3 linked regions of the Homo sapiens genome follow. The protein of the gene in region 3 interacts with the protein of the main gene of each other region in a biochemical or structural test. Each region holds a gene or a part of one and is shown on either strand. Other genes may lie near its edges.

Region 1 (3,733 bases), on a different chromosome or scaffold from region 3:
TTTAGTAATTGCCATGGAATGAATTGTGTCCCTCTAAATTCATCTGTTGAAGCCCTAATGCCCAATGTGACTGTATTTGGAGATAGGGTTTTTACGAAGTAATTAAGGTTAAATGAGGTCATAAGAGTGGGGTCCTGATCAAATAGGATTAGTGTCCTTATATGAAGAGACATCAGAGACATTGCTTTTTCTCCACCGTTGGAGGAAGGATATAGCAAGAAGGTGGCTGTCTGCAGGCCAGGAAGAGAGGCCTCACCTGAACCCAACCTTGATCTTGGACTCCCAGCCTCCAGAATTGTAAGAAAATTAATTTCTGTTGTTTAAGCCATGCTGTGTATGGTATTTTATTACTGCAGCCTAAGCTAAGATAGTCATGGCCTGACAAAATGCTCCAAAGGGAAAAAAGGAAAAGAAAAGCAGGAGAATGCTACCTACCTCGAGCATTTCCTCTCTTTGCTTCAGGGCCTCCTTGACTTCAGCAAACTGAAATTGCAGTATACTGTGGGCGTGTTTTTCCCTTTCAAATTCCTGTAAAGGAGAAAAACAGCACTAAAGCAGTGGAATCCCATGTTTCTGGCATGCCAGTTCAGGCTCTCACGATTTATAGTTTCTGTGGAACAAATCACCTGCTACTACATCATCACAATCTTCAAGGTCTTTTATTTTATTTTTTATTTATATATTTTTTTGAGATGGAGTCTTGCTCTGTTGTCCAGGCTGGAGTACAGTGGTGCGATCTCAGCTCACTGCAACCTCTGCCTCCTGGGTTCAAGCGATTCTGCTGCCTCAGCCTCCCAAGTAGCTGGGAATACAGGCGCCTGCCTCCATGCCCGGCTAATTTTTCTATTTTTGGTAGAGATCGGGTTTCACCATGTTGGCCAAACTGGTCTCAAACTCTTGACCTCAAGCGATCCACCTGCCCCAGCCTCCCAAAGTGTTGGGATTACAGGCATGAGCCACTGCACCTGGCCTTCAAGCCCTTTCAAACAACACAAACAGATTCCTCTGGACTTTATAGATGATGCCTGATGACTTACTGTCAAATTAACCTGAGGAGTTGATGCAATCAACAAGGATTTTCTGATTTCTTATCTACAGTGAAGCAAGAGCCGACGAAGGGCCCCCCCAGGGAGCCTGGTGTCTTCCACAGCACTGTGCTGAGAGCCTGGGTGAGGCTGCCCTGCAAGGACTTACCATAAAATGGCCCCTGCTGAAATATGACAAGGAAAACTCTTTGGGATAAAAAGGAGATAAACATGGCCTACTAAAGCATCTCTCATGAACAGCTGGTGGCCAGCTCTGTGCTTCAGGGCTGCCCCTTAAGAGACAAAAACAGGAGAGTTTGGGGGAGCAAATGGAGAGCCTGCAAAACCTAGCTGCTCCTCAGGCCTGGCCTCCCCACCTGAGGCTCAGCCCAGGAAGCTGGCAGCTCGGCTCTGCTGTGTTCCTGCCCAGTCACAGCAGCGCAATCCCTGGTGACGGCCTGAGACCCAACTCACTTTGCTGACAGCTTACAGGCCTGCAGGACGCTCCTTCCCTAGACCTGTCAGGCGGGTGATCTGAGATGGGATCTGGCCTGAGCTTCTGCTCACCCTGGCACTTCTGTTCGCCCACTTCCTTTAGCTTGGGGGTGGCTGGTGCCCTCCTGGCTATGACAAGGGCCCTCCTGTGGGGCTTTGCATGGCCCCTGTGTCCATCTCGGGACAGCATTCTAGCACCATCCAGCTTCTCTGGAGTGAGACTCGGGAGTTTTCAGTCCACTGAATGATGCCTAATGACAGCATTCCAGGAGGAATGCATATGCATTACAGGCCCCCACCCGAAGGGGGGCTGGGCTGTGCTCTCCACTCCTCCGTTCCCACATGACATCAGTCTTGTGAAAAGCTCCCCTCTTGCAGAGTTCAGCTATAAGGAACTTTGTGCGTAAAATGTTCTTCAGCTTCCAACTCAATTCTATAGCAGTCGAAGAAGCAGGCCTGAAGGTTGTCAAGGGTACCTTGGTTTTAACCCTTTGGATTTAGAGGATAATAGCCAGTTAAAAACAACAACAACAACGACACTCACACATTACATTTTCTGTTTTTCTCAGAATCTCTGAAAAATTGGACAATTCCTAAAAGTATGAAAAAAGTATTCCTTGCTTTCTATCTAAAGAACATCCAAGCCCAGCCTTCGTGGAATCAGTCCGCTGTCATTACTTATCTTAACACATGACTCATGCTTGAGACTCTCAATAGAAATTATATCTGATCTCAGCTATTAACAAACTAGTTCCAGTGGTTCCTAATGAAAGCTCAGATAAGACTATCTCTCTCTCTGAGCTTGGTGATATATTTAATTCTTAAGTAGAGTAACTGTGTCTTTTCCCAATCAGCAGAAAATAATATAATTTTCTTAAAATCTTTGATACTCATAACTATTTCCCTATGGTGTTGAGAGAGAACAAAATAAAAATCAGAAAATACATATGAATAGGAAAATCTTGAAGCATCTGATCGCACCTTATCTGAGCATGGTGGCTCTTTCATAGGTATGTTTTTTCATGGTTTTGCTTTTAGCTTAGATGTTCTCCTAGAAAAACTGTCTCCAGTTTACATGTTGAAATTATACGTATCAATATTTCAAGTCACTTGGCAAAGAGTATGGTACTTTTATTCTCAGATGTTTGGATTTCCTGGATAAGCGGAGAGCCATTGTTTAAAAATATAAAAATACATAATGTAAATTATACATTATATATACATACATACACACGATATATCCACACATACATACATACATACACACACACACACACACACCCTACCATTCCCTTTTTTTTTTTTTTTTTTTGAGACAGTGTCTTCTCTGTTGCCCAAGCTGGAGTGCAGTGGTGTCAACACAGCTCACTGCAGCCTCAACCTTCCAGGCTCAAGTGATCCTCCCACCTCAGCTTCCCAAGTAGCTGGGACTACAGCCATGTACCACCTGGCTAATTGTTTTAATTCTTTTTAGAAATGATGTCTCGCCATGTTGCCCAGGCTGGTCTCGAACTCTTGGGCTCAAGTAATCCTCCCACCTTGGCCTCCCAAAGTACCAGAATTACAGGCATGGGCCACTGCACGCAGCCTATTGTTAACATTCTGTATCATACTAATGCTTACTTTGTTTTTCTCTTCGTACTGCCGCCTAGATTCAGCCAGCTGTTCTTCAAGCTCCAGCAACATATCTTTTAGGGTATCAACCTGGTACATGAAGTTTGTCTTTTCATTGTCTAGCTGAGCATTGGAAACCATAGCCTTCTTATATTTCTCTTCAACTTCTGCTAGAGAGTCCTGTGGAAAGCAGGTCATATTTTTGAAATTGCAATAAAAAAATCAAAACAAAGAATCATTCAGTATTCTGTTAAAAAAAAACCCTCAGTCCTAAACTTAGACTATATTTCTTAGAGCAAATGGATCAGAAGAAGAAACACATGGCAATTTCAAATGCATGGAAATCCCCCTTTTCAATTTGGTCAAATTCTCATTGCTCAGAAAATTCACTATTAAAAGCAATGGACACACTCATTAGAACAAACGAGATACCAGTATGGAAAGGGATGTGGTCACAGAGGCAGTAGAGTCTCTGGCCCCACTCAGTAGCTGGGGAATCCCCCCAGCACGGCGTCCTAGGGCTGGGTGTCAGGCTGTTCAACAGATTTCTGAAGAATCACTCGAGGCGTGTGACCAGCCCTTGTGAAAGAGCCAGTGTG
Region 2 (3,500 bases), on a different chromosome or scaffold from region 3:
CCCAGGCTGGAGTGCAGTGGTGCTATCTGGGCTCACTGCAAGCTCCGCCTCCCGGGTTCACGCCATTCTCCTGCCTCAGCCTCCCGAGTAGCTGGGACTACAGGCCCCACCAGCATGCCCAGCTAATTTTTTGTATTTTTAGTAGAGACAGGTTTCACCGTGTTGGCCAGGCTAGTCTTGAACTCCTGATCTCGTGATCCACCCGCCTCAGCCTCCCAAAGTGCTGGCATTACAGGTGTGAGCCACCGCGCCCGGCTTCACCTGACTTTTAAAGGCATCACTATTTCTTGAGAATTATAGGGTGTGAAGACTTATAATATTGAAATCCTTGGCTTTGATACTTCAGACTGTTTGAACCTTGTGTTGTGGTTTCTTCTTTACCTTCTCCTTTCTTTATAATACAACATTACTTCTGGGTAATAGCAGAAACAGCCATTATCCTTCTGTTGCATTCCAAAGTGCCTTTTGCATTTTAAGGTTGAGGGCTTTTTATTTGCTTTTTGTTTTAAGAGCTTGCTGGACAAACAGTCCAGCATTTTACATGCTATTATAAAATGTTTGACAGAATCAGATAATAAAATAAATGGAACTGTATTATTATATGCTGCCATTTTAACTAATACCTCAGCTATCTCGACTTCCATTACCTATCACATTATCTAGATTCTAGAATATGCTTAAGAATTAGGACAAAGGCAAAAGCCTATTCGTTCTAAACACTATAGCTTTTATTTTAAGCATGGGAAAATGCCTTTGGCCCTCGCTGAAAATTTATTCTTTTATGTATACTTGGGACAAGCATGGTTATCAGGTTTCTGAGACTGCAGTAAAAAGGAGACAGGTTACTCTGGGCAGGTATAGTGATAGCCCTGGTGGCTCAAAGAGAGGGAAGAGACAAGGAAAAAACCATAGAAAGCAATACATTAGTTCTGGGCCATTTAGTGGAGTAGCAAATAGCCCTTACGCCTTGGAAGGTCATGATGGTTATCAACTCATTAAAAATTATGTTTAGTATCTTCAGTTTGAAAAGGTAAAATAAAAAAATACTTTCCTGTTGTTGTTGTTGTTTTTTCGAGATGGACTCTCGCTCTGTCGCCCAGCCTGGAGTGCAGTGGCTTGATCTCGGATCACAACAATCTCCGCCTCCCGAATTCAAGCAATTCTCGTGCCTTTGGCCCTCGCTGAAAGCTGGGAGGCTGGGCACGGTGGCTCATGCCTGTAATCCCAGCACTTCGGGAGGCCGAGGTGGGTGGATCACCTGAGGTCAGGAGTTCGAGACCAGCCATGGTCAACATGGTGAAACCCTGTGTCTACCAAAACTACAAAAAATTAGCTGGGCATGGTGGCGGATGCCTGTAATCCCAGCTGCTGGGGAGGCTGAGGCAGGAGAATCGCTTGAGCCCGGGAGGCGGACGTTGCAGTGAGCCGAGATCACGCCATTACACTCCAGCCTGGGCAACAAGAGTGAAGTTCCATCTCAAGAAAAAAAAGAATTTGGAAAGTAGAGAAAATTTCAGAGAAAATAAATTACACATAATACATTAAAATCTATTCTGGTTTGTCTACAACTTCAGGTACAAAAAAATCTAGAGAGAGTTTCAGTTGGTGTTTTGATGTTTTCCAAGTCATTTAAAAAATTATTTACATATGCTATAGTATATTATACCCAATTACAAATGCGAAAACAGAGGTTTAAGGAAATGAAGTAATTTAAATTTATGGGCCTGGCATAGTGGCTCACACTTGTAATCTGAGCACTTCAGGAGGCCAAGGTAGGCAGATCACTTGAGGCCACGCATCTGAGACCAGCCTGGACAACATGGTGAAACCCAATCTCTACTAAAAATAAATTAGCCAAGTGTGTGGCGTGTGCCTGTAATCCTAGTTACTCGGGAGGCTGAGGCAGGAGAATCGCTTGAACCCAGGAGGTGGAGGTTGCAGTGAGCCGAGATTGCGCCACTGTACTCCAGCCTGGTTGACAATGAGACCCTGTTTTTAAATAAATAAATTTATTTTAAATAAATAAATAAATTGATGTTATTTCTGTTAAATAATAGCTGAGAAAATCTGCCTTAGACTGTAGAACTGTGGTGCAATGGCCACCAGCCTAATGTTGCCAGGTAAAATACAGGGTGCCTGAAAATTTGAATTTCAGATGAAAAACAAAGAATTTTTAGTATATGCATATCCCAAATATACCACAGGACAGACTTTTGTCCAGTCTTTTTTTTTTTTTTTTTTTTTACATGCCTGTGTACATGTATCTGTTTTGGGTGGGTAGGGAGGTTTTTTGTTCTGTAAAATTTGGATCATGTTCTCTTTTTGTTAAACAAGAGATCATGGGTATTGGCAATGCCAGATATTCTTTGGAAATAGCAGAAAATTCTTTCCAAATGGCTTGAAATTTCAGTGCCCAGAGGAATATAGTAATCTCAAAGTTATTGAGGGCAAACTTACCTCTCCAGAATAGCATTCCCTGAGGATCCCAGAGAGCCCAGATTCCACTTAGCTTTAAACTGTGGGATTTGTGTTCCTTTTTAGGCGGGTGCCACGTCTATGTGGGCTTCGTGCTGTGGGCTGCTGAATGAAGTCATGGGAACTGGAGCTGTCAGGGGCCAGCAGTCAGCATTTGCAGGAGCCACCGGTCCATTCAGATTTACACCAAACCCTGAGTTTTCCACCTACCCACCAGCAGCTACGGAAGGGCCCAACATAGTTTGTAAAGCCTGTGGGCTTTCATTTTCAGTCTTTAGAAAGAAGGTGAGTTGGATGAAATGTTACATAACAACACACATGGGTCAGCATTCTTGATTGTAGGTTATTTTGAATAGCTATTGAATTTTCATTTCTGTTTATAAAAATATCAAAAGCTTAGTTCCATTAGCCATTTTCCATCTAGAAAAATACTTAATTGGAGGGATTATATTACTGCTCAAGTTTTATAGACATTGTTTCTCATGTTCAGGCATCCTTTCTCCTGAACTTTGACCTGTTTGTATCATTTTATTTTCTATTATGTTTATTTCCAAAAGCAAGAAATTTGTTAGTCTGTAGTTTTGTTCACAAATGATTTACTGTAACTATGATTCAGATTCAAGTTTCAAAAAAGTATCCCGTACCTTAACTTTCAAATGAATAAATGAATGCAATAAATTAACTACTCTTTAGAGATTCAACATCAAATACTTAGCTAACAGTTATTTTCACTAAGATGGAAAGTCATTCAGAGACCCATCATATTGGTAGGCCTCCTTGCTCTCTTTGATCTTTAGTTTAGTCTTCTGAAATACTTAAGGAAAAAAAATGTTAGCTTGCAGGAACAATGCAGCGAGCAGAAACGACCACATCTTAGTGCCCTCTTTAAGCTTCTCTAGTGGCAAGGCTTTGATTGTGATTAGGCTGTGTAGTTTACAGATTACTGTATTAGTGGGTCCTGTATTTTCTTGGATTCACCTTGAGAGATCAGTTGCCTTTCTCTTTCCCTGTCAGTCTGTTATGCT
Region 3 (2,445 bases):
TCCTCTTGAAATGGGACAGGAACTTGGGGTTCTCCTGCTGCTGCGTCATGCGTACCACCTGGGGATGTGGAAGTGTTAGGGGCAGCTCCCTGGACCCCCACCTGCCCCTCGGGAGCCTAACCTTCGCTGGGTCTGAGCCCCACCACACCCCTCCGCCTGGCCTCGGGCTCGCGGGGCTGCCAGGCACACCTCCAGCTTCCCAGGGAAGAGGCTCTCGAACTTCTTTTGCAGGCTGAAGGTGAAGGTGAGCCAGCCCATATTGGAGGCTTCACGGCCCTGCCAGAAGTACACGATGCACTGGAAGTCCTCCTCTGGCTGCTTCTCCTCTGCCTCAGCGGTTGCTTCCTCGCCTTCTTTGCCCTCGGCCTTCTCCTCCTTGTCTTCCTTCTTTTCCTCCTCCTCGTACTCCACAGGCACCCAGTACCTGCCGGGTTGGAAGGTTGTGAGCAGGGGCTCGAGCCCCCAGCACCAGGGGAGGGACTTGGGGAAGGGAGTGCTGAGGTGGTACCTGCAGAGGAAGACGTAGCAGTCCTGCGTGTAGAAGTGGCCAAACTCCTCTTCCGGCAGCCGCGCAAACTTCTTGCCCTCCAGCACGAAACCCTCCATGCCGTCTAGGTCTTCGTTCCACTCCTCCATCAGCTGCTCCGCCTGCAGGTGAGAGGGACCCGCCCCGCGGCAGGTCTGAGCGCGCTCTGCGCATAGGCCCCGCCCTCGGCCTGCCCCCCACCCCCCCCCCCGCGCCCCGGTCCCGGCCCTGCCCCCACCTCGGCCAGCGACATGGGCGGCTGCCGCGGCAGGAAAAGCGCAGTGAGGTCAGCCTTCATCTGGTCTTTCTTCTCGGCGTCGCGTTTCACCTTCCCGGAGAGACCCGGGCTCTGCAGCACGGCCTCCGCATTGCGTGTGTAGTCCACCGTCAACACATCGTCCCAATTCTTGAACTTGGCCTTGAACACCTGCCAGGGAGGCCATCAACTAACCATGAGGGGTGCGGCATGATTAGAGTTGGAGGAAGTAGCCCGAGGCTTGAGGCGGGACCCAAGGGAGATCTAGGGCGGGGCTTGGGAGGCGGGGCCTCGGACACGGAGGTAGGAATAGGAGGGGCAGCTTGCAGAGGGGGCGGGGCCTGGGCAGAGTCAGCAAAGAGGAGGTGGGTTTGGGCCCAGCTCTGTAGGGAGGTAGTGAAGCCACAGGGGTCAGGGCATGTCAGGGTGCGAAGGATCCTGGGGAGGGGCCTCCGAAGCTGCAAGCGCACCTGCGCCTCGGTGCCCTCGAGGCTGCGGCTGACCGTGGCATGGCGTGGCCGGTGCAGCATCCCGCACAGCTCCTGACCCAGCTTGAGGGCGGCAGCGCGCACCAGGCGCGGGGACTTGCGGCCGAGCCAGATGAACACGTCGGACCAACAGTCCAGAATGTACACGCAGCGCGTGTCCAGCAGACTCTGCAGCTGCGGACCGGGAGTCTGGAGGTCAAAGCCCAGCCAACGGGGAGGGATCTGGCCCCACGCCCTCCTCCTGCATCTCTTACCAGCCGCATTCTTGGCATCAGCTCCACCTTGGGACGCTGCTTATGTTCCACGGAGAGCTTGTAGTTGATCTGTGGCAGCTCCAGGTAGCCCAAGCCCAGGCCCACCTGGCAGGAAGGATGAGCATGGCAGGGAAGGGATCTGGAGACAGGAACCTCACCCACACAGCCCTCTGCTCTGGAACCAGCCCTGCCCTGCAGCGTGGCTCACTGACTGCTTCTGTTTCCCCCTCCCCTTCAAGGTCTTTTTAGGGATATCCTTTCAGAAGGGCTTTTAAATGGAGTTTTCCCTGCCTGCCCTCTCCAGGCCCTTCATGCCATTTCTAATTAACGTGTCCCTTTCCTGTTCACAAGAATCTAGATAATTGAGCCAAGGTTCCCAGCCCTGGCACTAGGTGCTTCTGTCTCCCCTACGGCCCCACCATCCTGGAAAGACTCCGTGAGGCTACTTCTCAAAAGCAGCCTCCAGACCTTTGCTCATACTGTTCCTTGTCCAGAAGGTGGCACCCTCTCCCCACCAAAGTCGAGATGGAGCCCAAAGCCAACTACATCGGTGTGTAGTCCATTCCCCCAGTCGGTGGGTGAACTTGGGAGGCCAAGGTGGGCCTCAGCAGCAGGGCTCACCTTGTACAGCTTGGGCTGCGGCGGCCAGAAGTCTTCAGGCACGTGCTTCTTGATCTCAGAGGGCTCCCCACCCAGTGCCTCCCAGAACTCTGGGAGCTCCTGGCCCTGCACCAGCAGTGTGATCTCAGCCTTCCCTTTCCGCTCATTCTTGTTAATTTTCTCTGCAAAGAGCCTGAGAGCAGGATGCAAAGTCATCAGCGAGGCTCACACCCCTTTCCTTCACACAAAAGACCCCACGGTGTCCTTGTACCTGGCCTTGGTGGTGCTGCTCAGTGTGGCCTGGGCCCCCCGCCATACGTA

The links.
Region 1: the proteins of FLII (region 3) and LRRFIP1 form a complex in vitro, tested with the Homo sapiens proteins (one study listed by IntAct).
Region 2: of the proteins of FLII (region 3) and RNF34, one has a biochemical effect on the other in vitro, tested with the Homo sapiens proteins (one study listed by BioGRID).

The regions. Positions count from the first base shown.
Region 1 is NC_000002.12:237,752,890-237,756,622, reverse strand, and holds part of LRRFIP1 (leucine-rich repeat flightless-interacting protein 1), read right to left. Parts: intron 3,315-3,733; coding exon 3,144-3,314; intron 529-3,143; coding exon 436-528; intron 1-435.
Region 2 is NC_000012.12:121,413,618-121,417,117, forward strand, and holds part of RNF34 (E3 ubiquitin-protein ligase RNF34), read left to right. Parts: intron 1-2,541; coding exon 2,542-2,760; intron 2,761-3,500. UniProt on the Homo sapiens protein: E3 ubiquitin-protein ligase that regulates several biological processes through the ubiquitin-mediated proteasomal degradation of various target proteins.
Region 3 is NC_000017.11:18,246,405-18,248,849, forward strand, and holds part of FLII (protein flightless-1 homolog), read right to left. Parts: coding exon 2,396-2,445; intron 2,318-2,395; coding exon 2,146-2,317; intron 1,630-2,145; coding exon 1,525-1,629; intron 1,445-1,524; coding exon 1,253-1,444; intron 954-1,252; coding exon 765-953; intron 649-764; coding exon 509-648; intron 425-508; coding exon 190-424; intron 59-189; coding exon 1-58. UniProt on the Homo sapiens protein: Is a regulator of actin polymerization, required for proper myofibril organization and regulation of the length of sarcomeric thin filaments. It also plays a role in the assembly of cardiomyocyte cell adhesion complexes.